Regions from separate parts of the Homo sapiens genome. Here region 1 is linked to region 2. A link means that fine-mapping ties the variant in region 2 to the expression of a gene that starts in the linked region. Tissue or cell type: whole blood. Region 2 holds a variant in brackets; the other region holds the start of a gene. All regions are shown on one strand. Distances are from middle to middle. Region 1 holds the start of RNFT2 (ring finger protein, transmembrane 2). Region 2 overlaps RNFT2 (ring finger protein, transmembrane 2).

Evidence for each region.
Region 1: RNFT2 starts here. The variant in region 2 is fine-mapped to the expression of RNFT2 in whole blood (TOPMed, PIP 0.97). The same link has a PIP of 0.9 or more in nasal epithelium.

The regions. Positions count from the first base shown.
Region 1 is chr12:116,733,858-116,747,497 of GRCh38, forward strand. RNFT2 (ring finger protein, transmembrane 2) reads left to right here and starts at 4,458. Exons shown (of 11, transcript NM_001382266.1): 1 at 4,458-4,513; 2 at 6,488-6,664; 3 at 7,179-7,237. The coding sequence starts at 6,641. SPRING1 (SREBF pathway regulator in golgi 1) reads right to left here and starts at 4,212. Exons shown (of 5, transcript NM_024738.4): 1 at 3,933-4,212. The coding sequence starts at 4,043. RefSeq lists enhancers at 2,754-3,712, 4,481-4,740 and silencers at 3,901-3,950, 4,031-4,290.
Region 2 is chr12:116,752,695-116,768,555 of GRCh38, forward strand. It overlaps RNFT2 (ring finger protein, transmembrane 2), which reads left to right. Exons shown (of 11, transcript NM_001382266.1): 5 at 1,290-1,366; 6 at 14,120-14,220. It also overlaps the pseudogene RPL21P105. Among named protein-coding and RNA genes, the nearest start is that of RNFT2, 22 kb to the left of the region's middle. RefSeq lists enhancers at 6,927-7,511, 7,037-8,236. The variant T/A (reference allele first, on the strand shown) is at 7,227.

The sequences.
Region 1 (13,640 bases), 20 kb before region 2:
TCTTTATGGGCGTACCATTTTTACTCTTATATTTTTTGAAACACAGTCTCACTCTGTTGCCCAGGCTGGAGTGCAGTGGCGTGATCTCGGCTCACTGCAACCTCCACCTCCCAGGTTCAAGCGACTCTCCTGCCTCAGCCTCCTGCATAGCTGGGATTACAGGCGTGTGCCACCACACCTGGCTAATTTTTATATTTTTAGTAGAGATGGGGTTTTGCCATGTTGGCCAGGCTGGTCTCGAACTCCTGACGTCAAGTGATCTGCCTGCCTCAGACTCCCAAACTGCTAGGATTACAGGCGTGAGCCATCGCACCCAGCCCATTTTATATCTTTTATACAGTATTTTTACTGTACCTTTTCTATGTTTAGATCTATTTAGATCCACAAATACCTTCCATCGTGTTGCAATCACCTACAGTATTCAGTACAGTCACATGCTGTACAGGCTTAGAGCCTAGGAGGAATAGGCTATGCCACATAGCCCAGGGGTGTAGCAAAATCACCTAAAGATGCATTTTTCAGAATCTTGAGCGACGCATGACTATAATCTTAAAATGAAGATGATGTATCAGGGTAGTGAAAAGGTGGTTGTAGGGAAGGTGACAGAGTGGACAGCACCTGAGCCAAGAGGTGAAAGGTTAGCAGAAGTATGCCAGACTGAAAAGAAACATTCATCCCAGTTAAAAAGACTCACTTGTTTGTTCAATCAATATTTGGATTCCCATGAAGTGGCTGGCAGTATCCTAGGGGCTGGAGAGTCTATGAACAAGACAGACAAGGTCTCTGTTCTCAAGAATATTATAGTCTAGAAGAGAGAGTGAGGCAAGACAGATAAGCAAGTAAATGAACAAGAAATGTTCAGTTTGTGATGCCTACCACAAAGAAAATAAAGCAGGTTTATGAGCAAGGAATTGAAGTAATTTACACCGTGTCACCAGGTATGGTCTGAAGCAGTAACAGTCTGACCTGAAATGACAAAAAAGATTCAACCATGCAGAGATCCTGGAAGACAATCCAGAGTTTTATCTGAGAATTTTACCTGGGGAAATGCCATGATGATCCCATCTTTTTAAAGATTATCACCCCTACTGCGGGGAAGAGAAGAAGACAAGAATGGAAGCAGAGACTTGCAGCTGGGCTACTGCAGTGGTCCAGACGAGAGATGCCAGTGGCTTGGCCTAGAGTGACAGCAGTGACACTCTGAAGAAATGAGCAGATTCAGGATACACTCTGGAGGCAGAGCCAATATTGTGGATATAGGGAGTGAGAGGAGAAAAAAAGAATGAAGTGGCTTTAATACCTGGTGAACAGTAATGCCACTGAGCGAGACTGGGAAGACTCGGGGAGGAACAAGTGCTGGCAGAGAATCAAGAGTTCTGTTGGTCCAAACACGAACACATTCAACGTCAACTAGAAAGTAGGAGGGTGGTTGCCGGGGGCTGGGGAAAGGGAGAAATGGAGAGTTATTGTTAAATGAATATTAAGTTTCAGTTTCTACAAGCGTTATGGGGATGGATGGTGGTGATGGTCGCACAGCGTTAAGGATGTATTTAATACCACTGAACTGCACACTTTAAAAATGGTTAAGATGGGGCCGGGCGTGGTGGCTGACACCTGTAATCCCAGCACTTTGGGAGGCCGAGGCAGGTGGATCACTTGAGGTCAGGAGTTCGAGACCAGCCTGGCCAACATGGCGAAACCCTGTCTCTATTAAAAATACAAAAATTAGTCGGGTGTGGTGGTGCATGCCTGTAATCCCAGCTACTCAGGAGGCTAAGGCAGGGAGAACTGCTTGAACCCGAGAGGTAGAGGTTGCAGTGAGCTGAGATCATGCCACTACACTCCAGCCTGGGTAACAGAGTGAGACTCCATGTTAAAAAAGGTTAAGATGGGAAATTCTGGCCAGGCGTGGTGGCTCACACCTGTAATCCCAGCACTTTGGGAGGCTGAGGTGGGTGGATCACCTGAGGTCGGGAGTTCAAGACCAGCCATGACCAACATGGAGAAACCCCGTTTCTACTAAAAATACAAAATTAGCTGGGCATGGTGGCGCATGCCTGTAATCCCAGCTACTCAAGAAGGCTGAGGCAGGAGAATCATTTGAACCCGGGAGGTGGAGGCTGTGGTGAGTTGAGGTCGTCCCACTGCACTCCAGCCTGGGCAAGAGCAAAACTCAGTCTTTAAAAAAAAAAAAAAAAAAAAAAAAAAAAGATGGGAAATTTTATGTCGTATTTTACCACAATAAAAAAAAATTGAAAAAAAAAAAAGATATCAACTAGGCAATTGGATATAAGAATTTGGGGATTTCTGGACAGATCTAGGCTGTTGTTATCAACTACTGGCATCAACAGCATACCTCCAGAGATCACCTGAGTATTTAAACAATGGCCCAGAGATTACCTGAGTCAGATAGAGAGGAAGGCAGAGGACGGAGTCCTGGCGCACCCCACCACTCAGGGGTCACAAGACAGAGAAGGGACAACACGCGACTGTGAGGAGGTGTCTGAGGTGGCAGAAAACACAAGTCACAGAAGTCTGGTAGTCACATGATTGCCCAGACATCCCGGCCAATAAAAGGGACTTACAACACTCAGCCTCTCTGTTTGCCTAAGGTGGCAGGTCACGTACAATTCCCTATTCTTCCCTTTTCACAGCTCCCCTGCCAATCCACTAAATGTAGAGTGACCACATAGTTTTATCAATGTTCTATTCACTTATATATTTTATTTACACACTTGAGCTTTGAGAGTAAAAAGGAGAGCTTTTTATAACCATGTCAGGACAACAGCATAACCCATTATCCTGGGTGCACCCTGGGGTGTAACCACCCTTTCTACACAACTAAGCACTCAACCTGGACTTCTAGACAAACTTATTAATGCTTTGGGTAAGATTTCCCCACCCGTGCTCCTTGCTGTTTCTCCCAGAAATTCTCACATGGAAGAAAAATGAAAGGGTGCAGTGTGTTGGAGGGGTGGAATTCTACCAATCAAGTTATGCACAAAAAGCATAAAAGGAACTGTGGGTCCTTTTGAGTCACCCAGGAGGACACAGAGCCCCCAAATTAAACGAAGGGCACCCATGCGAGGGCTGGCCGACCCTCGCCACCTATGTCTTGGTTTCCCCCACTGTAATACTGGGAACCCCACTTCTCCCAGGCCTGCTGCGAAGATGAAGCCAGCAAATGCACGCCCTCTCTTAGCTCTGGACCGGGCAGGTGAAAAGCAGGGAGGTGTTCATAAAAGCAGTCCCCACCGCTGAAGGGTCCTCAACTCGGGGTTCTAGTCCCAGCTCTGCCCTGGCCTAGCAACCCCTTCCCGCTGCAGGGACCAAGGCGGTGGGCAGGTCCCTCACCCGTGCTGAGACCGGGACAGGAATGCGCACCTCTCCCCACCCTCGGACGCCCCGGCGGCGCCGCTGCAGAAGTCGGGAGGTCGGACAAACGCGAGGAGTAAGGAAAAAGAGGAGGAAGGGAAGGAAGGAGGAAGAACGAAGTGAGGAAAGAGGATGTCAGGGAAGAAAGGGAGTAAAGGAAGAAGGAAGGGAGAGGGGGACAGAAAGGAGGAGGACGGAAGGAGGAAGGGAAGGAAGAAAGACGGAAGGGAAGGGAGAGGAAAAAGGGGAGGAAAGAAGAAAGGGAAGGGGGAGGAAGGAAAGGGGGAGGAAGGAAGGAGGAGGAAGGTGAGGAAGGTAAGGAAGGAAGGGAGGCAGGGAGAGGGGAAGGAAGGAGGAAGATAAGGAAGGAGGGGAGGTAGGAAGAAGGGAAGGAAGGAGGAAGGAAGGGAAGGGGAGAAAGAAAGGAAGGGAAGGGGTAGGAAGACAGGGAGGAAGGAAAAAAGGAGGAAGGTAACGAAGGAAGGAAGGAGAAAGTAAAGTAAGGGGGAGGAAGGAAGGAAGAAGGGAAGGGGAGGAGGGGAAGGGCGGCCACTGACCTGCTTGAAGGTGCTGCTGAGGAAGTAGACGAGCGACAGCCCGAAGACCAGGGCGAGCACCCACCTCTTCCGCAGAAGCCGGCGCCACACCATGGCCGCCAGGTTCACCATCCCGGCGCGGACGTGGGGCGCGGCGGCCGGGGCGCGGAACGCGGCAGGCCCGGGTCCCGGGCGGCATGGCCCCTACGCGCCCGGCAGCCCCATCCCTCCAGGCAGGCGCCGGCCCCGCCGCCCGCAGCCCAGTCTGCTCCCGGCAGCCTTGGGCGCAGCCCCACGTGACCCCGCCCTACGCCCCGCCTCCGCTCCGCAGCGACAAGGGCTAGTCGCGCAAGATCTTCTCACCATTGGTCCCTAAGGAACGGCGGCCTCCTATTGGTTAAGTGCCGGGAAAGGGGGCGGACAATCGCGTGAGTGCTGCGGGCGTAGCTGTGCCCGGGTCCTAGCGCCGGACCCGGCGACGCCAAGAAACCACCCAATAGGAGGCCGGAAGCATCGGAAGTCACATGCTGCCCAGGCTGCGCGGGTGATTGGCTTGGCTGGACCTGAATGATGCGGCTGTGATTGCTGAATTGTCTGGGCAGGTAAAAAGAGAACGCGATTTTTTTTTCTTTTCTCCCATCATGGTCTGTGTAGTCTCCTGCCCTTGCAGTCCCAGAGCGTTTTGCGCTGTGTGTTGGTTGCAGGGATGAAAAGCGCTCGCGACGTTGTTCCCGAAGTGCACCTGCCGGCTTCCAGTCCAAGTGATGCAGGCGATGCTCCTCTGAGTGCATTTCGGTGCAGTCCTGTAACGGGCCCCAGGGGCGCAACTTGAACCATCGCAAGCATCGAAAAGTCTCGGTGCGGTCCTTCAAAGGGACATAGTGGGATGTACAGAGCAGAGGATTAAAAAGCGTTTCATTCATTCAGATGCATCCCGCGTGCAAAAATTTATTCCAGAATTATGTACGGCCTGCTTCCGACAAAGAATCCGAAGCCTCTTCCAATACAAGCATCCGAAAGTAGAGTTTCGAGCATTCGATTTAGGAGTTAAATGTGTGGATGAGAACTTTGGAATATGAATTTTATTTTCCCCCAAGGATTTGCAATGTGGGATAATGGAGGGAGGGGCGAGAGGAGGATTAAGTTGAGATTGCAAATTCTTGAAAAATATTTATATAATGACCTTTTCTTGATATATGAAGATGCTGCTGCTGACCGGTTTGTTACCTAATTTTTCAAAAGAGAAAGGAGGCTTCACTGGCGGGTCATTTTTAATCAGTGGCCCTAGTGACACCATTGCTGCCCCCTCAAGAAGCCTGGTCAGGATTAGGAAGTCATTCAACAGCCAATAATCGTGCCCTAAACTGAAGTCAGACACCATCTGACTGATATAGACACCCTATATCCACAATATTGGCTCTGCCTCCAGAGACAAGAAGATATTCACGGAGGCTAAACCTTTTCATGGGAAGTAGATGGCCCTTATTACCTTGCTAGGGTGAAAGGTGGGACAGGGAGCAAGGGATCTAGAAAAGGGGAACTGGGAGACCCATAGATGTTTTATTCATTGAGTAAATACTTGTTGAGCGCCACTCTGTGCCAAACAGTGTCCTGGATGCTGAGGCAGAGGGGTGATCCAAGTAGACAGGATCCCTACTTTCAGGAATGGCATTTATATTCTAATGGGGAGGACAAATCATAAATAAATAAGCAAACATGAACAAATAAGTGCTATGAATAATATAAAACAGGGCAATATTACGGGGAGTCAGGAGAATGAGAAGAGAAGGCCTCTGGGAAGAGACGACATTTGCCCTGCGGGACCAAGCCCTGCCACATTTAGAGGAGAAAGTATTCCAAGGGGAGGGCACAGCAAGTGCAAAGGCCCTGAGGCAGGGACACGCTGACACATTAGAGGAACAGAAGGGCCACTGTGGGTGGACAGGAGTGGGAAAAGGGAGAATGGGAGGAAATGCAGTTGGAAACAGATGATGCTACATCAGGAAGAACCCGTAGGCTATGGACAGAGCTCGGGTTTGATTCTGATTGCACTGGGCAGCCGTTGGAGGGTTTAAAACATATTTTCTGGCTTCCCCAATCAGGACTCTTAGTTTGACAATAGGATGAAATACAATACCTTAAGAGTTTCAAAGAGGGCCGGGCATGGTGGCTTATGCCTGTAATCCCAGCACTTTGGGAGGCCAAGGCAGGCGGATCACTTGAGGTCAGAAGTTTGAGACCAGCCTGGCCAATATGGTGAAATCCCATCTCTACTAAAAATACAAAAATTGGGTGGGCGTGGTGTCGCATGCCTGTAAGCCTGTAATTTCAGCCACTCAGGAGGCTGAGGCAGGAGAATCGCTTGAACCTGGGAGGCAGAGGTTGCAGTGAGCCAAGATCGCACCACTCCGTCTTAAAAAAAAAAAAGGAGTTTCAAGGGGGGATCACTGAGAGGCTACCCAGAGATACTGAGCAGATGGAATCATCTGCTTATAGCTACCAACAATGTCCTAAGGCTTCTTAGCAGATTCAAGGTATCGCAGGGACTGTTCATCCAGGTGTTCTGTTCCATCCAGGTTTGGAGTCTCTGGCAAGCTCCCCTGACTGTGCATCCCTCTGGAGACGAAGAGGAGGGGGAGGCCTGTCCTCTCTGGGATCCATTGGTCACATCCCCCTGAGGATTCCCGAATGCCTACCTCCAGTGTCGTCAACATGGAGTTCTGAAGTCCATGTGGCTCTTCACAGTGAATCAGGTGACACGTCTCCAAGAGAATTTGCATCTTTATTACTACTTGATTAAATGTGAGAGCTGGAAGGAAGTTTTGGTTTGACCACTCCACCCCTCCCATGTAACACATGGGGAATCTGAACCCACAGAGGGGTTACTGATTTGTCTAGGGTCACAGCAAGTTAGCAGCAGCATCAACCCAGAATCCATGTCTCCTGCCAGTCCGCTGCCCACTTCACTTCATCCAGCACCTCTTGGCTGCACAGTTTACCGCGTTATCCTCTCACATGAGGACTTTCTCCACCTCTGAGTCTCATCGTCCTCCTCTGTGAAATGGGGTGATAGCTTTCCTCATGGGATAGAATGTCACATTGAGGATGGAATGGCATGAAAGATTGAAACATACTTTGGAAAATGCCAGAGAGCACTAGGGGTCTAAGATACGACTAGTGCAGGTTTGCAGTTTACAATTACCTTGGCAATCTGACAGGCAGTGGGAGTGTTGGGAGACTCTGGCTCACCCATGTGTTGGGTTTTAGGTGTTAAGGAAGATGCAGAGACGCCACAGCAGCAACACGGATAACATTCCACCTGAAAGGTAGGCATCCCTGCTTCTGTTCCATCTGAGGGCTCTAGGCTTCGGGTGGTGAGGGGCAACCCAAAACTGGATTGAACAATACCTCACCCTCAGCGTTAGTTGTTAGAGTCACACTGATGGCCTCATACTAAACATTCAACGCATAATAGCTTGCTCTTTCTTTTATGCTAAATTTCAAAGTCCTGTGTGATAGGTGAGCCACCTGACTCATTGTATCAATGAATGTACCTGTGGAATTTTGATTTATAGAGATGTCTTAGTCCATACAGGCTGCTATCACAAAAATATCATAGAATGGGTGGTTTAAACAACAAATGTTTATCTCTCACAGTGCTGGAAGCTAGGAAGTCCAAGATGAAAGCTCCAGCATATTCAGTGTCTGCGAAAGGCCCACTTTCTGGTTCACTGATGGCCATTCTTTTGCTATGTCTTAATGTGGTGAAGGGAAAGGGATCTCTCTGGGTCTCCTTTTTAAGGGCACTAATCCCATTCGTGAAGAGCCCATCTCATCACCTAATCATTCCCAAAGGCCCACCTTCCAATACGATCAAATTACAGGTTAGGTTTCTTTTTTGAGAGAGAGTCTTGCTCTGTTACCCAGGCTGGAGTGCAGTGGTGATCATGGCTCACTATAGCCTCCAAATCCTAGGCTCAAGCAATCCTCCTGCCTCAGCCTCCTGAGTAGCTGGGACTACAGGCATGTGCCACCATACCTAGCTAATTTTTAAAATTTTTTGGTAGAGACGGGGTCTCACTAAGTTGTCCAGACTGGCCTCAAACTCCTGGGCTCAAGCGATCTTCCTACCTTGATCTCTCAAAGCCCTGGGATTATAGGTGTGAACCACTGCACCTGGCATGGGTTAGGTTTCAACATAAGAATCTACACAAACATTGAGATCATAGCTCTGAGAAACAACACGGAGAGGCTAATGACATTGAAAGATGAGATTTTTATTTCTTCCATTTCTCAAGATGAAGGGGCATACTACTGCTTGCAGGGCCACCTGGGGAAGCACCAGCAATAGTCAGAGGGCAGAAAGGACCGAGGAAAAAGCATAGGCCACAGCCTTTATTGTGTTTTCTGGGGGAAAGAAAGGCAAGGCAGGGGCAATAGTTTAGGACTGGCTAGTTTGAATCATGTTGGTGGGCTCTGGGGTACCGAGGTGGTTTCTTTTTTTTTTTTTTTTTTTTGAGATAGGATCTCCCTCTGTTGCCCAGGCTAGAATGCAGTGGCACGATCTCGGCTCACTGCAGCCTCGACCTCTCAGGCTCAAGCAATCCTCCTACCTCTCAGCCTTCCGAGTAGCTGGGACTAAAGGCATGCACCACCATGCCCGGCTAATTTTTGTATTTGTAGGGACAGGGTTTTGTTATGTTTCCCAGGCTAGTCTCAAACTCCCGGGCTCAAGCGATCTGTCCGACTTGGCCGCCCAAGCTCCTGCTCGCTGGGATTATAAGCGCAAGCCACCACGCCTGGCCTCAAGGTGCTCTTTAGTTTGGTGTCTGGCCCTAGATGATTTAGGACAGGAGAAATATTGGCTGCGTGTGTAAAACTTAGATGAAGGAAGGGCCATGCAGTGACTCACGCCTGTAATCCCAACACTTTGGGAGACCAAGGTGGGAGGATAACCTGAGTCCAGGAGTTAGTTGGAGACCAGCCTAGGTGACATGAGGAGATCCTGTCTCTACTAAAAAACTTTAAAACTAGCCACGTATGGTGGTGCATACCTATAGTCTCAGCACTTTGGGAAGCCAAGGTGAGAGGATTGCTTGAGCCCAGAAGTTTGAGATCAGCCTGGGCAAAATAGGGAGACCCTATCTCTACAAAAAATAAAAACTTACCCAGCATGGTGGCATGCATCTGTGGTCCTAGTTATGCAGGAGGCAGAGGTGGGAGGATTGCTTGAGCCCAGGAGGTGGAGGTTGCAGTGAGCTATGATTGCACCACTGCATTCCAGCCTGGGCAACAGAGTGAGACCCTATCTCAAAAAAAAAAAAAAAAAAAAAAAAAAGGTTAAATGAAGCAGTGGTTGGGGTTATGGGCTCTGGATCACAAGGACATGTAAATAACTTTGGCCGTTAGTTTGGCCCTGTGATTAATAGATACCAGGTAGAATCTAAAAAAAAAAAAAAAAAAAAAAAAAAAAAAACCGGTTAAAAAACACTCATGAGCTAGAATTTTTTTTTTTTGAGATGGAGTCTTGCTCTGTCACCAAGGCTGGAGTGCAGTAGTACAATCTCAGCTCACTACAACTTCCGCCTCCTGGGTTCAAGCTACTCTCATGCCTCTGTCTCCCGAGTAGTTGGGACCATAGGCACGCACCACCACGTTTGGCTAATTTTTTTGTATTTTAGTAGAGATGGGGTTTCACCATGTTGGCTAGGCTGGTCTCGAACTCCTGAGCTTGGGCAGTCTGCCCACCTCAGCCTCCCAAGGGGCTGGGATTACAGGCATGAGCCACTGCACCCAGCCTAGAATTTATATCTATTGAAACCCAAGAGGGAACACACCTGGGGGCCTGTTCTCAGATTGGGACAGCCTCCAGCCCCAGAAGCCCTGTCCTAGCACATACATCCAAGGGGCGGGCAGCCAAGCCTTCCCTTCCTCACATCCCATACCCCCTGCGACTCTGGGGTTGGCTACAGAATCACAAATGGTATCCCCCGGTCCCAGCACTGGGACTGAGTTTTGTATGGTGCCTGCCTGTTCTGCAGGGAAGAACACGGGGCTCAGCCAAACCCCAGCTCAGCCACTTCCCACCTGTGGTGACTTTGATACATGACTTCACCCCTAGGTCTCAGCTTCTCCATCCAAAAATGGCAGGTAACAGAACTCAAGAGTTGCTTATGGGCCAGGCATGGTGGCTTATGCCTGTAATCCCAGCACTTTGCGGGGGTAAGGCAGGCTGATCACCTGAGATCAGGAGTTTGAGACCAGCCTGGCCAACATGCTGAAACCCCATCTCTACTAAAAATACAAAAATTAGCCAGTGTGGTGGCAGATGCCTGTAGTCCCAGCTACCCAGGAGGCTGAGGAAGGAGAACCACTTGAACCCTGGAGGTGGAGGCTGCAACGAGCAGAGATCATGCGACTGCACTCTAGCCTGGGTGACAGAGTGAGACTCCTCCTCAAAAAAAAAAAAAAAAAAGAGTTGTTTATGGATGAAGGAGTGAGTGTGAAGATGCAGAAACAGCATCCGGCTTGTAATAAGCCTGCCTGTTGGAACCTTTTCCGCCTCTAAAGACAACATTGTCATCTGCTCTCAAGTGAACCATGAGATCTCTTGCGGGCAGAGAGCACAGCAGGAAACTCAAACCGTGTATTGAGTGCTTATGCTGTGCCAACCGCCACATTAGCCCAGTGAGAGCACCCATTTTACAAATGCAGAAGCTGAGGCTCAGAGAGGGGAAGGAAATTACCTAAAGTCACACAGCCAGGAAGTAGCAGGGCTGAGATTTGGGCCCCCATCCCTGTGTCCCCCAGCACCTGTGCTTTGAGATAGCACATTTTGGCTGCCTAGTGTCTGAGCAGAACCACTTTTCCTCCTGGGTTGCCTCAAGCTCTGGCGCTTAAGTGGTTAAGTTGGAAGCACAGCCTCTGTCCCCCTAAGGAATATTCTTTCCCAGTCAGGCTGAAATCTCGGCTGGATGCAGGGGAGAGGCCCAGGGAAGGGAGGCCAGCTATAAAAAGCCCCTTGGTGAGTTGAGTCTTCCCTGGTTGTACTGGAGGCCCCTGAGCCCAGTGAACTCAGAGTGCTGGCAAGCTCAAGGGGGACAGGATGGCTTTCTAGGGCCCCTTGGGTGGCCACGGAGAGAGAGTGGCCTCCTCATGGACCAACATGGGTACCTGCCAGGGCTCTTGCTTTCTGAGCTGAGCTCTTTGAAGTGCAGAAAAAGCTCAAGGCCCCTTGAGGATCATAGCCATGGTGTTTGCTGTTGTTGTCATTATTAATATTATCATTATTATTATCCAGAGCCCAGTGGAGGAGGAGCGCATATTTCCTGGGCTTTTGGAGCCAGCAGGGGTGGGGCTTGGTGAGGGAGGGAATCCAATCGTGAGTTTCCTCCATTGCACCAGATTTTTTTTTTTTTTTTTTTGAGATAGAGTCTCACTGTGTTGCCCAGGCTGGAGTGCAGTGGCACAATCTCAGCTCACTGCAACCTTTGCCTCCCCGGTTCAAGCGATTCTCCTGCCGCAGCCTCCTGAGTAGCTAGGATTATAGGCATGCACCACCATGCCCGGCTAATTTTTGTATTTTTAGTAGAGAGGGTTTTTTGCCATATTGGCCAGGCTGGTCTCAAACTCCTGGCCTCAAGTGATTCTCCCACCTCAGCCTCCCGAAGTGCTGGGATTACATGTGTGAGCCACCACACCCAGCCTGCTTCAAACTCCTGACCTCAAGTGATCTGCCCACCTCAGCCTCCCAAAGTGCTGGGATTATAGGCATGAGCCACCATGCCTGGCCTCACTAGGTTTTTAGTAACATACCTGCAGGCCCAGTTTGTGCAGCCAGGGAAACCACCGTGTCCCACTGCTGTGTGTCACAGGTGTTCTGCAAGCTGTTAAATGGTTTTTCATGGATAAAAAGAATTCTGTGGTCAAATAAGTTTGGGGAACACTGGGCTTAAGCAAAGTCCATTATTTCACTTGCAGGCCTTCTCAGAGCGTTTAGTATGCCTGTTCATGTATTCTTTCAAACACTTTTTATTAAGCATGTTCTGAGTGCCAGGTGCATTGTGCCGGGTGGTAAAGATACAGTGGGGAGCAAGGTTATGGTCTTTGACCTTGTGGAGTGGAGCTCTGTCCAAAGCTATGGTTTGCAGCACTGACCACACATTAGAATCACTGTAGCGGGGGGCAGTGGGGAATGGTGGCTCATGCTTGTAATCCCAGCACTTTGGGAGGCCAAGGCGGGTGGATCACTTGAGCTCCGGAGTTCGAGACCAGCTTGGCCAACATGGTGAAAACCCATCTCTACAGAAAATACAAAAATTAGCCAAGCATAGTGGCGCACACCTGTAATCCCAGCTACTCGGGAGGCTGAGGCATAAGAATCACTTGAGCCCGGGAGGCAGAGGTTGCAGTGAGCCGAGATCGCGCCACTGCACTCTAGCCTGGGTGACAGAGGGAGACCCTGCTCAAAAAAAAACAAGAATCACTGAGGGGACTCTGAGTAACTTCAGGTGCTGGGGCCCACCCATAAAGATTTTGATTCAGTTGGTCTCCAGTGGGGTCGGGGCACCTGTCTTTTGCAAAAGCTCCCCCAAGTGATTATAATATATGGCCAGGATTGAGAGCCACAGGTCTCAAGGGAAAGATGAGGAATAAAATAACAGCTGTGATCAATCCTGTGCAGGTGACATGAGGGTGCAGTGAGAGCAAGGAGCAGGGGACTGTCATTGTCTAGGAAGGAGTGAAGCCTCAATCCAGGGAGGGAGATTTTAGCTGAAATCTGACAGATGAGCGTGCATTACCTAGTTGGGATGGGGTACGGGTTAGGGGAGACATCCGGTGAAGGTGATAGCCTGTAGTAGAAAGCCCTTGAATGATGAGAAAGGGGCACATGATAAGATTGGAGTTTGGAGTCAAATAATCCAGGGCGCCTGGCAACTTCATCTCTCTGAGCCTCAGTTTGTTTGTCAGTAAGGAACATGATATTTGGGAATGATATTTGTACCTGTCTAGAGGGTTCCTCTGAGACCATGGGAAGGAACACAGAATGGGAAGCCCTGGGAGGGCTTTTAGTGGGATCGTGAAATAATCAAATACAGTCAGCCCTCCATATTCATGGGGGAATTGGTTCCAAGACCCCACGGATATGATAATATGCAGCTGCTGAAGTCCCTGGTATAAAATGGCTAGGACAGTCAGCCTTTTGTATCTGTGGGTTTTGGTCCACGACTCAAGGTTGGTTGAATCCTTAAATACAGATGCTGGACATATGTGTTTTATTATTATTTATTCATTTACTTATTTATTGAGAAAGCATCTTGCTCTGTCACCCAGCCTGGAGTGCAGTGGCGTGATCTTAACTCACTGCAACCTCCACCTCCTGGGCTCAAGCCATCCTCCCACCTCAGCCTCCCCACTAGCTGGGACTACAGGTGCGTGCCACCATGCCTGGCTACTTTTTAATTTTTTGTAGAGACAGGTTCTTGCAATGTTGCCCAGGCTGGTCTTGAACTCCTGGGCTCAAGCAATCTGCCCACCTTGGCCTCCCAAAGTGCTGGGATTATAGGCGTGAGCCACCATGGCTGGTCTTTTATATATTTTAAAACATATTTCCTGGAGCCAATTGCAGTGGCACATGCCTATAATCCCAGCTACTCAGGAGGCTGAGGTGGGAGGATCACTTGAGCCCAGGAGTTTGAGGCTCTAGGGAGCTATGATCACACTATTCCA
Region 2 (15,861 bases):
TGGTGAAACCCCATCTCTACTAATAATTCAAAAATTAGCCAGGTGTGGTGGCACACACCTGTAGTCCCAGCTACTCGGGAGGCTGAGGCACAAGAATCACTTGAACCCAGGAGGTGGAGGTTGCAGTGAGCTGAGATCGCACCACTGCACTCCAGCCTGGGCGACAGAGTGAGACAGTGTCTCAATAAATAAACAGTAAGTGCATCAGGTGAAAGAGGAATCCTGTCTACAAATAACAAAAAGCAGGACTCGAAAATCATTATTTGGGGAGAATTCCAAGATTGTAGCTTGGCAAACAGTGGCAATGAAATGACTGGTGGAAGAAAATTCAATTCCGTTCTGCCATCTGCCTGGGTCATGTTTGTCTGTTAGCTGGGATTTTTTTTTCTCATTGAACATTAAACTTGAATTCCTTATGGCGTTGTAAGTTTTTTCTTTTTCTTTTTTCTTTTTCTTTTTTTTTTTTTTTTTTTTGAGACAGAGTCTTGCTCTGTTGCCCAGGCTGGAGTGCAGTGGTGTGATCTCAATTCACTGCAGCCTCCCCATCCTGGGTTCAAGCAGTTCTTGTGCCTCAGCCTCCTGGGTAGCTGTGACTACAGGCACATGCCACCATGTGTGGCTAATTTTTGTATTTTTACTAGAGATGTGATTTCACCATGTTGGCCAGGCTGGTCTCAAACTCCTGGCCTCAAGTGATCTGCCCACCTCGGCCTCCCAAAGTGCTGGGATTACAAGTGTGTGCCACTGCACCCAGCGGTGAGTTTTTTCAATGTATGCTTTTATCACAAATTCTATCTGATTCTATCAATCAGATTCTTTTTAAAAGTAGAAATAATAAGAGGCATCATTCACTAACTGCTAGGGATTATGATCTAGAAGCTTTATCCCTCTATGAGGTATAAGTAATGTTATTGTTCTGTCCATTTTACAGATGAGGAAACTGGGGCTTAGAGAGGTGCGGTGACTTGCCCAAGCTCAAACAGAGAGGAAGTGGCAGAGCTGGGAATTGAACCCAGCCCTTACCAGACTGCACAGCCCATCCCCTGATCCAGTGCTATAAAGTATCCCCACAGGGACCTAAATCCTGTCCCTAAGTCAGAATGGCTCAGAATTCCCAGAGATTTAGATGGCAGCCCAAATCCCCAAGAAGTGGGATTTTTTTTATTTTTCTCTCTCTTCTGTCAACTCTGAGGGGACCAGGGATGTGCCTTTTCCCCCATGTTGCTCAGCACCTGGGCTAGGCCTGATGAGTCTAAGTGGGTGACATCAGGCCCTTCTCTGTCCCACAGGCATTGCTGTGTGCATCGGGATGGCCAGCACCTTCGCCTATGCCAACTCCACGCTTCGAGAACAGGTCTCACTGAAGGTGAGTCACTTTCCGACCTAGTCTCCTGTGGCTGCTGCAACAAATAAGCCACAAGCCAGGCACAGTCTTCCCGGCAAGTCTCCAGAGTTCATTGTATCATTCTTATGCCTTTGCGTCCTCATAGCTTAACTCCCACATATCAGTGAGAACGTACAATGTTTGGTTTTCCATTCCTGAGTTACATCACTTAGAATAATAGTTTCCAATCTCATCCAGGTCACTGCAAGTGCTGTTAATTCATTCCTTTTTATGGCTGTGTAGCATTCCACCATGTATATATGTATATACATATATATACACCACAATTTCTTTATACACCCGTTGATTGGTGGGCATTTGGGTTGGTTCCACAATTTTAAAATTGTGAATTGTGCTGCTATAAACTTGCGTGTGCAAGTATCTTTTTTGAATAATGACTTCTTTTCCTCTGGGTAGATACCCAGTAGTGGGATTGCTGGATCAAATGGTAGTTCTACTTTTAGTTCTTTGAAGAATCTCTCACACTGTTTTTCATAGCGGTTGTACTAGTTTACATTCCCACCAGCAGTGTAGACGTGTTCCCTGTCCACCGCATTCACACTAGCATCTATTGTTTTTTGACTTTTTGATTATGGCCATTCTTGCAGGAGTGAGGTGGTATCACATTGTGGTTTTGATTTGCATTTCCCTGATCATTAGCAGCGTTAAGCATTTTTTCATGTTTGTTGGCCATTTGTATATCTTCTTTTGAAAATTGTCTATTCATGTTCTTAGCCCACTTTTTGATGGGATTGTTTGTTTTTTTCTTACTGATTTGTTTGAGTTTGTTGTAGATTCCGGATATTAGTCCTTTGTCAGATGTACAGATTGTGAAGATTTTCTCCCACTCTGTGGGTTGTCTGTTTACTCTGCTGACTGTTCCTTTTGCTGTGCAAAAGCTCTTTAGTTTAATTAGGTCCCAGCTATTTATCTTTGTTTTTATTGCATTTCCTTTTGGGTTCTTGGTCATGAAATCCTTGCCTAAGCCAATGTCTAGAAGGGTTTTTCCAATGTTATCTTCTAGAATTTTTATAGTTTTAGGTCCTAGGTTGAAATCCTTAATCCATCTTGAATTGATTTTTGTATAAGGTGAGAGATGAGGATCCAGTTTCACTCTCCTACATGTGGCTAGCCAATTATCCCAGCACCATTTGTTGAAAAGGGTGTCCTTTCCCCACTTTATGTTTTTGTTATGTTCAGTTAGCTGTAAGTATTTTGGTTTATTTCTGGGTTCTCTATTCTGTTCCATTGGTCTATGTCCCTATTTTTTTTTATAGCCCAGAGGTCTTTTTTTTTTTTTTTTTTAACACCTATTATGCCATGAATTCACAGGGAATAGGTTCCAGCAGCTCAGGCTCCTTCCCATTGGCTCTCACAAAGTGTGCTTCTCTGGGTGGAGCAGGCTGGCGCTTGAGTTGAACCCAGGTACCTTTCTCTTCCGCTTCTTTCTTTTTCTGATCATTTTCCTTCATGCATTTCAGGAAGCTATCTCGGCTCTCAGAGTGCTTAATGTGCTCAATATGCACATTAATTCTCTCGGCAAGAATCTTGCCCTTAACTTGTTTGTTTACAACAATGCCAACAGCATGCTGGGTAACATTGTAGACTCTTCCAGTTTTGCCATGGTAACACTTACGGGGCATTCCTTTTTGAACAGTACCCATTCCCTTGATGTCTACGATATCACCTTTCTTATAGATTCACATATACATGGCCAAAGGAACAACTCCATGTTTTCTAAAAGGCCTAGAGAACATATATCGGGTGCCTCTCCTCTTTCCCTTTGTGTTCGTCATTTTGGCGAATTACTAGAAGATGGCAGTTCCGGCTGAAAGGAAAAGATATGTCCTTATTTTTGTACCAGTACCATGCTGTTTTGGTGACTATGGCCTTATAGTATAGGTTGAAATCAGGTAGTGTGATGCCTCCAGCTTTTTCTTTTTGCTTAGTCTTGCTTCAGTTATGTGGGCTCTTTTCTGGTTCCATATGAATTTTGGAATTTTTTTTTTCTAATTCTGTGAAGAATGATGGTAGTATTTTGATGAGGATTGCATTGAATTTGTAGATTGCTTTTGGCAGTAGGGTCATTTTCACAGTATTGATTCTACCCATTCATGAGCATGGGATGTGTTTCCATTTGTTCGTGTCATCTATGATTTCTTTCAGCAATGTTTTGTAGTTGTCCTTGTAGAGGTTTTTCAACTCCGTGGTTAGGTATATTCCTAAGGTTTTTTTTTGTTTTTTGTTTTTTGTTTTGCAGCTATTGTAAAAGGGGTTGAGTTCTTGATGTGATTCTCTACTTGGTCGCCGTTGGTGTATAAAAGAGCTACTGACTTCTGTACATTAATCTTGTATCTGGAAAGTTTGTTTTATATTGGCTGTGGGTTTATCATAGATGGCTTTTATTACACTAAGGTATGTCCCTTGTATGCCATTTTGCTGAGAGTTTTAATCATAAAGGGATGCTGGATTTTGTCAAATGCTTTTTCTGCATCTATTGAAATGATCATGTGATTTTTGTTTTTAATTCTGTTTACGTGGTGTATCACATTTATTGACTTGTGCATGTTAAACCATCCCTGCATCCCTGGTATGAAACCCACTTGATCATGGTGGATTATCTTTTTGGTAATTTGTTGGATTCGGTTAGCAAGTATTTTGTTAAGGATTTTAGCATCTATGTTCATCAAGGATATCCATCTGTAGTTTTCTTTTTTGGTTATGTCCTTTCCTGGTTTTGGTATTAGGGTGATGCTGGCTTCATAGAATGAATTAGGGAGGGTTCCTTCTTTCTCTATCTTGTGGAATAATGTTAAAAAGATTGGTACCAATTCTTCGAATGTCTGGTAGAATTCTGCTGTGAATCTGTCTGGTCCTGAACTTTTTTTTGTTGGTAATTTTTAAATTACCATTTCAATCTCGCTGCTTGTTATTGGTCTGTTTAGGGTATCTAGTTCTTTCTGATTTAAGCGAGAAGGGTTGTATTTTTCCAGGAATTTATCCATCTCTTCTAGGTTTTCTAGTTTTTGTGCATAAAGGTGTTCATAGTAGCCTTGATTGGCCTTTTATATTTCAGTGGTGTCACTTGAAATATCTCCTGTTTCGTTTCTTAGTGAGGTCATTGGATTTTCTCTCTTCTTTTCTTGGTTAATCTTGCTAATGGTCTATCAGTTTTATTTATCTTTTCAAAGAATCAGCTTCTTGTTTCGTTTATCTTTTGAATTTTTTTGTTTCAATTTCATTTAGTTCTGCTCTGATCTTGGTTATTTCCTTTCTTCTGCTGGGTTTGGATTTGGTTTCTTCTTGTTTCTCTAGTTCCTTGAGGGGTGACCTTGGAGTGTCAGTTTGTGCTCTTTCAGTCTTTTTGATGTAAGCATTTAGGGCTATGAGCTTTCCTATTAGCACCACCTTTGCCATATCCCAGAGGTTTTGATAGGTTGTGTCATTATTGTCATTCAGTTTGAAGAATTTTTTAATTTCCATCTTGATGTCATTTTTGATCCAATGCTCATTCAGGAGCAGGTTATTTAATTTCCATGTGTTTGCATGGTTTTGAAGGTTCCTTTGGGAGTTGATTTCCAGTTTTATTCTGCCGTGGTCTGAGAGAGTACTTGATATAATTTCAATTTTCTTAAATTTATTGAGGCTCGTTTTGTGGCCTATCATATAGTCTATCTTGGAGAAAGTTCCATGCGCTGTTGAATAGAATGTGTATTCTGCGGTTGTCAGATGAAATGTTCTGTATGTATCTGTTAAATCCATTTGTTCCAAGGTATAGTTTAAATCCATTGTTTCTTTGTTGACTTTCTGTCTTGATGACCTGTCTAGTGCTGCCAGTGGAATACTGAAGTCCCCTACTATTACTATGTTGCTGTCAATCTCATTTCTTAGGTCTGTTAGTCATTGTTTTATAAATGTGGGAGCTCCAGTGTTAGGTGCATATATATTTAGAATTGTGATATTTTCCTGTTGGACAAGGCCTTTTACCATTATATAATGTCCCTCTTTGTCTCTTTTAACCACTGTTGCTTTAAAGTTTGTTTTGTCTGATATAAGAATAGCTACCCCTGCTTGCTTTTGGTGTCCATTTGCATGAAATGCCTTTTTCCACCCCTTTAAGTTTATGTGAGTCCTTATGTGTTAGGTGAGTCACCTGAAGGCAGCAGATGGTTGGTTGGTGAGTTCTTATCTATTCTGTGATTCTGTGTCTTTTAAGTGGAGCATTTAGGCCACTTACATTCAATGTTAGTATTGAAATGTGAGGTACCATTGCATTCATCATGCTCTTTGTTGCCTGTGTACTTTGGTTTTTTCATTTTTTGTTTTTGCTTTTTAACTTGTATTTTTGTTTTATGGTCCTGTGTGATTTATGCTTTAAAGAGGGTCTGTTGTGATGTGTTTCCAGGATTTGTTTCAAGATTTAGAGCTCCTTTTAGCAGTTCTTATAGTGGTGACTTGGTAATGGCAAATTCTTGGTAATGGGTGAATTCTCTTAGCATTTGTTTGTCTGAAAATACTGTATCTTTCCTTCATATATGATTGTTAGTTTCACTGGATACAAAATTCTTGGCTAATCATTGTTTTGTTTGAGGAGGCTGAAGATAGGGCCCCAATCCCTTCTAGCTTGTAGGGTTTCTGCTGAGAAATCTGCTGTTAATCTGATGGGTTTTCCTTTATAGGTTAGCTGGTGCTTCTGTCTCACAGCTCTTAAGATTGTTTCCTTCGTTTTAACTTTGGATAACCTGATGACAGTGTGCCTAGGCAAAGACCTTTTTGCGATGAATTTCCCGGGTGTTCTTTGTGCTTCTTGTATTTGGATGTCTAGGTCTCTAGCAAGGCCGGGGACGTTTTCCTCGATTATTCCCCCAAATATGTTTTCCAAGCTTTCAGAATTCTCTTCTTCAGGAACACTGATTATTCTTAGGTTTGGTCATTTAACATAATCCCAGACTTCTTGGAGGCTTTGTTCATATTTTCTTATTCCCTTTTCTTTGTCTTTGTTGGATTGGGTTAATTCAAAGACCTTGTCTTCGAGCTCTGAATTTCTTTCTTCTACTTGTTCAATTCTATTGCCGAGACTTTCCAGAGCATTTCGCATTTCTAAAAATGTGTCCAAAGTTTCCTGAATTTTTAATAGTTTTTTCTTTAAGCTATCTATTTCCTTGAATATTTCTCCCTTCACTTCTTGTATCATATTTTGGAATTCGTTGCACTGGGCTTTGCCTTTCTCTGGTCCCTCCCTGATTAGCTTAATAACTAACTTTCTGAATTCTTTTTCAGGTAAATCAGGGATTTCTTCTTGGTTTAGATCCATTGCTGGTGAACTAGTGTGATTTTGGGGGAGTGTTGAAGAGCCTTGTTTTGTCATATTACCAGGGATGGTTTTCTGGTTCCTTCTCATTTGGGTAGACTCCGTCAGACGGAAGGTCTAGGGCTGAAGGCTGTTGTTCAGATTCTTTTGTCCCAGGGGGTTTTCCCTCTTTTTGGTACTCTTCCCCCTTTTCCTATGGATGTGGCTTCCTGTGAGCCAAACTGCAGTGATTGTTGTCTGTCTTCTGGGTCTAGCCACCCAGCGAGTCTACCTGGCTCCAGGCTGGTACTGGGGGTTGTCTGCACAGAGTCCTGTGATGTGAACTGTCTATGGGTCTCTCAGCCATGGATACCAGTGCCTGTTGCCATGGAGGTGGTGGAGGGTGCAATGGACTCCGTGAGGGTTCTTAGCTTTGGTGGTTTAATGCGCTATTTTTGTGCTGGTTGGCCTCCTGCCAGGAGGTGGCGCTTTCCAGAGAGCATCAGCTGTGGTAGCGTGGCGAGGAACCCGTGGAGCTCTAGAACTCTCGAG[T/A]TTCTATGGCCTTTGTCTTCCGCTACCAGGGTGGGTAGGAGGGAAGGACCATCGGGTTGGGGTGAGGCTAGGCGTTTCTGACCTCTCACTCTCCTTGGGCGGGTCTTGCTATGGGTTAAGTAGATGACATTCCCAGGTCACTGGTGTTGTGTACCAAGGAGGATTATGGTTGCTTCTGCTGAGTCATGCAGGTTGTCAGGGAAGTGGGGGAAAGCTGGCAGTCACAGGCCTCACCCAGCTCCCCTGCAAAACGAAGGGCCGGTCTCACTCCCACCATGCCCACCACAACAGCCCCCAGACCATTTCCAGGTGGAGAGCGATAGGGGCTTGAAAACCTGCCCCAGACTATCCGCCTCCCAGCTGCCAAAGAAGAGGGTTTAGTTCGTGCCGCCGCTGTGGAGTCTGCACACTGGATTTGCACCCTCCCCTGAGTTCTGGCCAGGAGGCTTCTTACCCTGTTCAAATTGTTACACAGTTCAGCTAGAGATTTGCTTCTCCCTGTGGAGTTTTAGCCCTTGCTCCTACCCATTGGATCCCCGTGGTGCCAGACAGGAATGGGCTGCTGGGGGACCCAGTGAGCTCCCAGGGCCTTGCTGCTGCTTCCTCTACGCCTGTATTTTGCTTGGCTTTCCAAATTGACTCAGCGCCAGATAAAGTTGGAAACTTCTCCTGCAAACAGACCTTCAGCTTCCCCCGTGAGGGTGAGTGTTCGGGAGAGGAGGGTCTCCCTTTCCCACTTCCGCAGTTGGGGCATTCGCAGTTTTGGGGGGCTCTCCTGGGTCCTGCAGGAGCAGTCCGTTTCCTTCAGAGAGTCTGTGGGTCCTCTCGGGATTGCTGGTTTGTCCTTGCAGTCAATCTGGTGCTAAAATTCACAATGCGAGCTGCCGCCCGCTGCTCTCTCTGGAGCTGCAATCTAGTCCTGCCTCCCATCCGCCATGATCTCACCAAAACCTCTTCTTTTATTTCATAATTTTTAGAGACAGAGTCTTGCTCTGTTGTCCAGGCTGCAGTGCAGTGGCATGACCATAGCTCATTGTAGCCTCCAACTCCCGGATTCAAGCAATCCTCTGACCTCAGCCTCCTAGGGAGGCCATTCTTCGGTCTATCACCCCTGGGTAGATCCCTGAATGTTCCTTCTTTCTCCCCTCCAACAGCAGCATCTCCTCCACGTACACCTAGCCCAGTCCCTTTACGCCGCAGACATTCAGCTCATTAGCTCACTTTCATTTTTTGTTTTTTTCTTTTTGAGACGGAATCTTGCTCTGTTGCCCAGACTGGAGTGCAGTGGCATGATCTTGGCGCACTGTAACCTCTGCCTCCCAGGTTCAAGCAATTCCTCTGCCTCAGTCTCCCCAGTAGCTGGGACTACAGACACACACCACCACGCCTAGCTAATTTTGTATTTTTAGTAGAGACGGGGTTTCACCATGTTGGCCAGGCTGGTCTCAAACTCCTGACCTCCGGTAATCCGCACACCTTGGCCTCCAAAAGTGCTGGGTTTACAGGCGTGAGCCACCATGCCTGGCCCCATTAGGTTACTTTCATTCCACCTTCATGCTTATGGCCATTCCTCTTATGCTGCTGGGTGGACATAGAGCTTCACCACCATCCTCCTGCATGTCCTCTGTGTCTGCTGAGCACTAACTGCGTGCCCGGCACAGTACTGAGCCCATTGCTCATCTCAGCAGGTTCATCCCAGCAACCTGGGAGGGAAACAAAATCATTTTTCTGTCATTTTCCCACTGAGGAAACAGTGGCTCAGAGACACTAAGTTCCTTACCTGAGGTCACACAGCCAGTGCAAGTGATGGCATCATGATTTGCACCTGGGTAGTTGAGCCCGTGCTCATTCCAGGTTCAAATCCCTGCTCCTCCACCCACCTGCAGACCCTCAATTAGGTTACCTTGGTGATCTCAGCCTCAGGTGCCGCCTCTGGAAAAGAGCCTGTTGGCACCAATTCACAAACCCATTGAAAGGATTGAATGAAATAGTGCATCCAGGCCGGTCGCGGTGGCTCACGCCTGTAATCCCAACTACTCAGAAGGCTGAGGCATGAGAATCATTTGAATCTGGGAGGCAGAGGTTGCAGTGAGCCGAGATCACACCACCACCCTCCAACCCGGGTGACAGAGTGAGACTGTCTCAAAAAAAAAAAAAAAACAGAAAAAAAGAAAAGAGCCAGGCACTGTGGCTCATGCATGCAATCCCAGCATTTTGGGAGGCCAAGGCAGGTGGATCACTTGAGGTCAGGAGTTTGAGACCAGCCTGAACAACGTGGTGAAACCCCGTCTCTACTAAAAAGATACAAAATTAGCCAGCCATGGTGGCTCACACCTGTAATCCCAGCTACTTGGGAGGCTGAGGCAGGAGAATTGCTTGAACCTGGGAGGTGGAGGTTGAAGTGAGCCAAGATTGTGTCATTGCACACCAGCCTGGGTTGAGATGGTTTGATGGTTTGAGATGGTTTCACTCCATCTCAAAACAAAAAAAAAAAACAAAGAAAGAAATAGTGCATACAAGGTGTTTAGCACAAGTACTGGGTATGGTGGCCTATGCCTGTAATCCCAGCAACTCAGGAGGCTGAGGCGGGAGGATCCCTTGAACCCAGGAGTTTGAGACCAGTCTGGGCAACATAGCAAGACCCCTTTCTTCTCTACCAATTTTTTTTTTTTTTTTTGAGATGAAGTCTCACTCTGTCACCCAGGCTGGAGTGCAGTGGTGCAATCTCGGCTCACTGCAACCTCTGCCTCCCAAGTAGCGAGATTACAGGTGTGCACCACCAAGATTACCAAGTGATTCTCCTGCCTCAGCCTCCTGAGTAGCTGAGATTACAGGTGCATGCCACCATGCCTGGCTAATTTTTATATTTTTAGTAGAGATGGGGTTTCACCACGTTGGCCAGGCTGGTCTTGAACACTTGACCTCAGGTGATCCGACCACCTCAGCCTCCCAAAGTGCTGGGATTACAGGCGTGAGCCACCATACCTGGCTTGCAAAAGTTTTTTTAAAAAGTTAGCCAGGTGTGGGGGCATGTGCCTGTCATCCTAGCTACTCAGGAGGCTGAAGCAGGAGGATTGCTTGATCCCAGGAGTTTGAGGCTGCAGTGAGCTATGATTGCACCACTGCACTCTAGCCTGGGCAACAGAACAAGACCTTCTCTGTTTAAGAAAAAATAAAAAGAAGGCAATGTTTAGCATGGTGCCTGGCATGTAGGAAACATTTAATTGAGCTAGTTTTCAAAAGTCTGTGCTTTCAGAAAAAAAAAAAAAATCTCATCAGAAAGTGGCCTAAGGATGTTAATAGGCAATTCTCAAAAGAAGATATACAAATGGCCAACAAACTTATGAAAAAATGCTCAGCATCACTACCGATCAGGGAAATGCAAATCAAAACCACAATGCAGTACCACCTTACTCCAGCAAGAATGGCCATTATCAAAAAATCAAAAAATAATAGATGTCGGCATGAATGCGGGAACACTTCTGCACTGCTGGTGGGAATGTAAACTAGTACAACCACTATGGAAAACAGTGTGGAGATTCCTTAAAGAACTAAAAGTAGAACTAGGTGGGGCGCAGTGGCTCACGCCTGTAATCCCAGCACTTTGGGAGGCTGAGGTGGGTGGATCACAAGGTCAGGAGATCGAGACCATCCTGGCTAACACAGTGAAACCCCATCTCAGTTAAAAAAAAAAATAACAAAAAAAAAATTAGCTGGATGTGGTGGCAGACGCCTGTAGTCCCAGCTACTCGGGAGGCTGAGGCAGGAGAATGGCGTGAACCTGGGAGTTGGAACTTGCAGTGAGCCGAGATCGCGCCACTGCACTCCAGCCTGGGTGACAGAGCGAGACTCCATCTCAAAAAAAAAAGGGGGCGGGGGGGGAAAGAACTAAAAGTAGAACTACCATTTGATCCAGCAATCCTACTACTAGGCATCTACCCAGAGGAAAAGAAGTCATTATACGAAAAAAATACTTACATACTCATGTTTATAGCAGCACAATTCACAATTTCAAAAATGTAGAACCATCCCAAATGCCCATCAACCAATGAGTGGGTAAAGAAACTGGTATATGTATATGATGGAATTCTACTCAGCCATAAAAAGGAATGAATTAATGGAATTCGCAGCAACCTGGATGGGATTGGAGACTATTATTCTAAGTAAAGTAACTCAGGAATGAAAAGCTAAACCTTTTGTATGTTCTCACTCATAAGTGGTAGCTAAGCTATGAGGATGCAAAGGCATAAGAATGATACAGTGGACTTTGGGGACTCTGGGGGAAAGAGTGGGAAGGGAGTGAGGGATTAAAGACTACAAATTGGGTTCAGTGTATACTGCCCAGGTGATGGGTGCACGAAAATCTCACAAATCACCACAAAAGAACTTATTCATGTAATACCACCTGTTCACCAAAAACCTATGGAAATAATTTTTTTTTTAAAGTCTGTGCTTTCTCCTGCACAGGTGATCCCATAATAATCACCAGCTTCACTGACCCTTCTATAGCATCGTCTGCTTTCTCAAAAGCACTTGGGCCTCCATGCAGCATGGAGGACAACCCAGTCTCCATTTGCACATGAGCACATTGAGGTTCGGAGTTGGGGACAGAGTCAGAGGTCCTTCCTGACCCTTAGTCTCATCTTCTTTATGCAAACTCCTTTCTGCTGTTGTTAAAACAGTAGGAGGGGGCAAGGACAGTGGCTCACGCCTATAATCCCAGCACTTTGGGAGGCTGAGACAGGTAGATCACCTGAGTTCAGCAGTTCGAGACCAGCTTGGCCAACATGGTGAAACCCCGTCTCTACTAAAAATACAAAAATTAGCTGGGCATGGTGGTGGGCGCCTGTAATCCCAGCCACTTGGGAGGCTGAGGCAGGAGAACCACTTGAACCCAGGAGGCGGAGGTTGCAATGAGCTGAGATTGCGCCACTACACTCCAGCCTGGGCAACAAGAGCGAAAGTCCGTCTCAAAAACAAACAAACAAAACAGTAGGAGGCAGCTTTGGGGGCTAGGTCTGTCTCAAATGCAGTAACATCCAAATGGCACCTTGACTTAAATTTTAGGAGCTGAGAGGATCTCTGTATCCATGGACGGGCCTCCAGGGGTCCTTGATGCTCATGAAGACACAGGTGACACTTTGCCTGTATGTGCGTATCTTCCATAAGAGCAGGTCTACATGGCCCTTAGTAAGCTTAGGCGTCGCAGCTGATTAGGAGAGAACTACCTCCTTTGTCCTTCAGTTTCTGTCTTCCCAGAACATTGCTAATTCCCTCTTCCTATTCCACCTTTGGTTTGGATTCATAGAGAATTAAACTGGAATCTATTATTCATTGGAGTAAAAAGAGCTGCCAGGTGGATTAATCACATTGATAAGAGCAGTTGGTTGGTTGGAGGTGGTTTCTAGCATCATTAACCTTGACTGCTCCTGGAATAATGGGTGGATGGAGATGCATTTGTTTCGTCCACTCTCTGGAAATGTGCATCATAACAGTGCGTGGGGCACTGAGCTGTGTCTGGAGACACTGTGTATTGAGCATTTACCGAAACCACAGGGAAGGTTACACTGGGAAAGTTATGACCTCATCTTATTCCAGCAATGCAGCCACTCCAGTCTGAAAAAAGGCACGAGCTGTTGAGAATCAACAGCAGAGGGATCTGCCTATGTGTCCCAGGGTACATAGGCAGGAACACGCCCCCCTTTGCATCTCCTTCAGACATTTCCTAGGATTGCTGTCAGGCTATGAAACTGCTGGGAAACAGCAAACTGAGGATTTCCAATTTGTCTTCCTGGGGACTAGACAGGAATGAGGCTGAAGAAGGAGAAATGGGGCTGGATTGTGAAGGGCTTTGAGAATTAGGTATATAAGCTTGGATTTAATTCTACACTGTGGCATTCCATGGAATGGTCAGTCCAGGGCAGCGGGCCAGAGGTCTTCCCTAGAAAAAGTGAAAGCAGAAATTTCCAGCCTCTAGATCTGAATCTTCTGCTGGGTTGTAAACTCTTAATAATCAGTCCTACCCCTTAGCAAGCTTTAAATATGAATCTGTACCAGACTGAATGTTTGCATTTAAAAATTTGACTTTTGCCTGTAATTCCAGTGTTTTGGGAGCCCAAGGCAGGAGGATCACTTGAGGCCAGGAGTTCAAGACCAGCCTGAGCCAAATAGCAAGACTCTGTCTCTAAAAAAAAATAAAAATTTTTTTTTAATTAGCCAGGTATAGTGACACCTGCCTGTGGTGCTAGCTACTTAGGATGCTGAGGCAGGAGGATCACTTGAGCCCAGGAGTTCAAGGTTACAGTGAGCTATGATCACACTACTGTACTCCAGCCTAGGGAACAGAAAAAAAAATTAAAATAAAAAATTTGATTTAATCTTTAACAACCCCATTTTCAAATGAAGACACTGAGACTTAAAACACAGCCCCTTGAGGTTTCTTAACCTCTCTGTGCTTTAGTTCTTAACAGCATTTTATGTACTTTAATTCTTACAACTCTATAAGGTAGATACTAAGATATACCCATTTTACAGATGAGGAAAGGGAAACTGAAAGAGTTTAAATAACTTGCCTGGAGTTGGACAGCTCCCACACAGGATTTGACCAGGGATTTGAATGTGTGCCATGCTGCTCTGGAGTCTGCTGCGAACCATGGTGTTCTCTTGCCTTTCTAGATAGTTTTTCAAGCAGATGTCCACCATTCTGCCACCTTCTCCGTGACCACCGCTTGGGTATCAGTGGAATAGAAAGGTGCCAATGCCCTTCCTTTCACCTTCAGCACCACTTCCTTCAAAATGTTGACAAAGTGAAAAGCTGCCAGTCATCAGGGTACATTCTGGAAGGTTCTGCCACATGCACCTTTGATATCACATATCTCTTGCTTTGTCTTCAGGAGAAGAGGTCAGTGCTGGTCATCTTGTGGATCCTGGCCTTTCTGGCGGGGAACACCCTCTATGTGCTTTATACATTCAGCTCCCAGCAGCTGTACAACAGGTGAGCATGGGAATCCAACCCCCACGGTGGGAGAGTGGGGCACTTGGCTGGGCTTGGGGCACGTACCCTTTCACTTGAGAATGAGGCACAAGCTCTATGTCATGTTGTAACTTCCAAATTCCACCCTGCTGTTACTACTTATATATATCTAGACCAGCACTCAATAGTAGAATTTCAAGGCAAGCCACATAGGTAAATTAACATCTTCTAGTTACTGAAAACTAAACAGAAACAGGTGGAATCAATTATAATAATTGATTTTATTTAACCCAGTATATCAAAAATATTTGTTTTTTGTTTTGTCTGTTTGTTTTGCTTTTTTTTTGAGACAGGATCTCACTGCATCACCCAGGCTGGCAGTGGTGTGATCATGGCTCACTGCAGCCTCGACCTCCCAGGGCTCAGGTGATCCTCCCACCTCAGCTTCCCAAGTAGCTGGTACTACAAGTGCATGCCACCACACCTGGCTAATTTTTACATTTTTTGTAGAGATGGGGTTTCCCTGTGTTGCCCAGGCTGGGCTCGGACCTCTGAGCTCAGGCAATCCACCTGCCTTGGCCTCCCAAAGTGCTGGGATTGATTACAGGTGTGAGTCGCCGCACCTGGCCCCGAAAGATTGTCATTTCAACATACGATCGATATAAAAATTATGTTTTTTTTTTGTTTGTTTTTTCTTGTTTTTTGAGACAGAGTCTCACTCTGTCGCCCAGGCTGGAGTGCAGTGGCACGATCTCAGCTCACTGCAATCTCCGCCTCCCAGGTTCAAGCAGTTCTCCTGCCTCAGCCTCCCAAGTAGCTGGGATTACAGACATGCGCCACCACGCCCAGCGAATTTTTGTATTTTTAGTAGAGACAGGGTTTCACCATATTGGTCAAGCTGGTCTCAAACTCCTGACCTCGTGATCCACCTGCCTTGGCCTCCCAAAGTGCTGGGATTACAGGCGTGAGCCACTGCCCCTGGTTTTACATTCTTTTTTCACGTTAACTCTTTGTAATCTGGTATCTTACATATACAGCTCATGTCAGTTCCAACTAACCACATTTCAAGTGTTCAAAATGGTTAGTGAACACTGTATGAATAGTGCAGGTCTGGAATATTTCTGGAAGGACAACCAAGAAACTAGAAATAATAATTGCCTCTTGGTGGGCACTGGAGATCAGAAACTTACTTTGCACAGTTTGGCCTTTTTTTTTTTTTTTTGGAGATGGAGTTTCACTCTTTGTTGCCCAGGCTGGGGTGCAGTGGTGCAATCCCGGCTCACTGCAACCTATGCCTCCCAGGTTCAAGTGATTCTCCTGTCTCAGCCTCTTGAGTAGCTGGGATTACAGGCACCTGCCACCATGCCCAGCTAATTCTTGTATTTTTCATAGAGATGGGGTTTCACCATGTTGGCCAGGCTGGTCTCGAACTCCTGACCTCAGGTGATCCGCCGGCCTTGGCCTCCCAAAGTGCTGGGATTACAGGCATGAGCCACCGCACCCAGCCCAGTTTGGCCTTTTATATTACAGTCATGTGTCACGTAATGATGTTTCTGTCAACGATGGACCATATAGACAACAGTGGTCCCATAAGGTTATAATGGAGCTAGAAAATTCTATTACCTAGTGATATTGCAGCCATCATAACGCTGTAGCACAGTG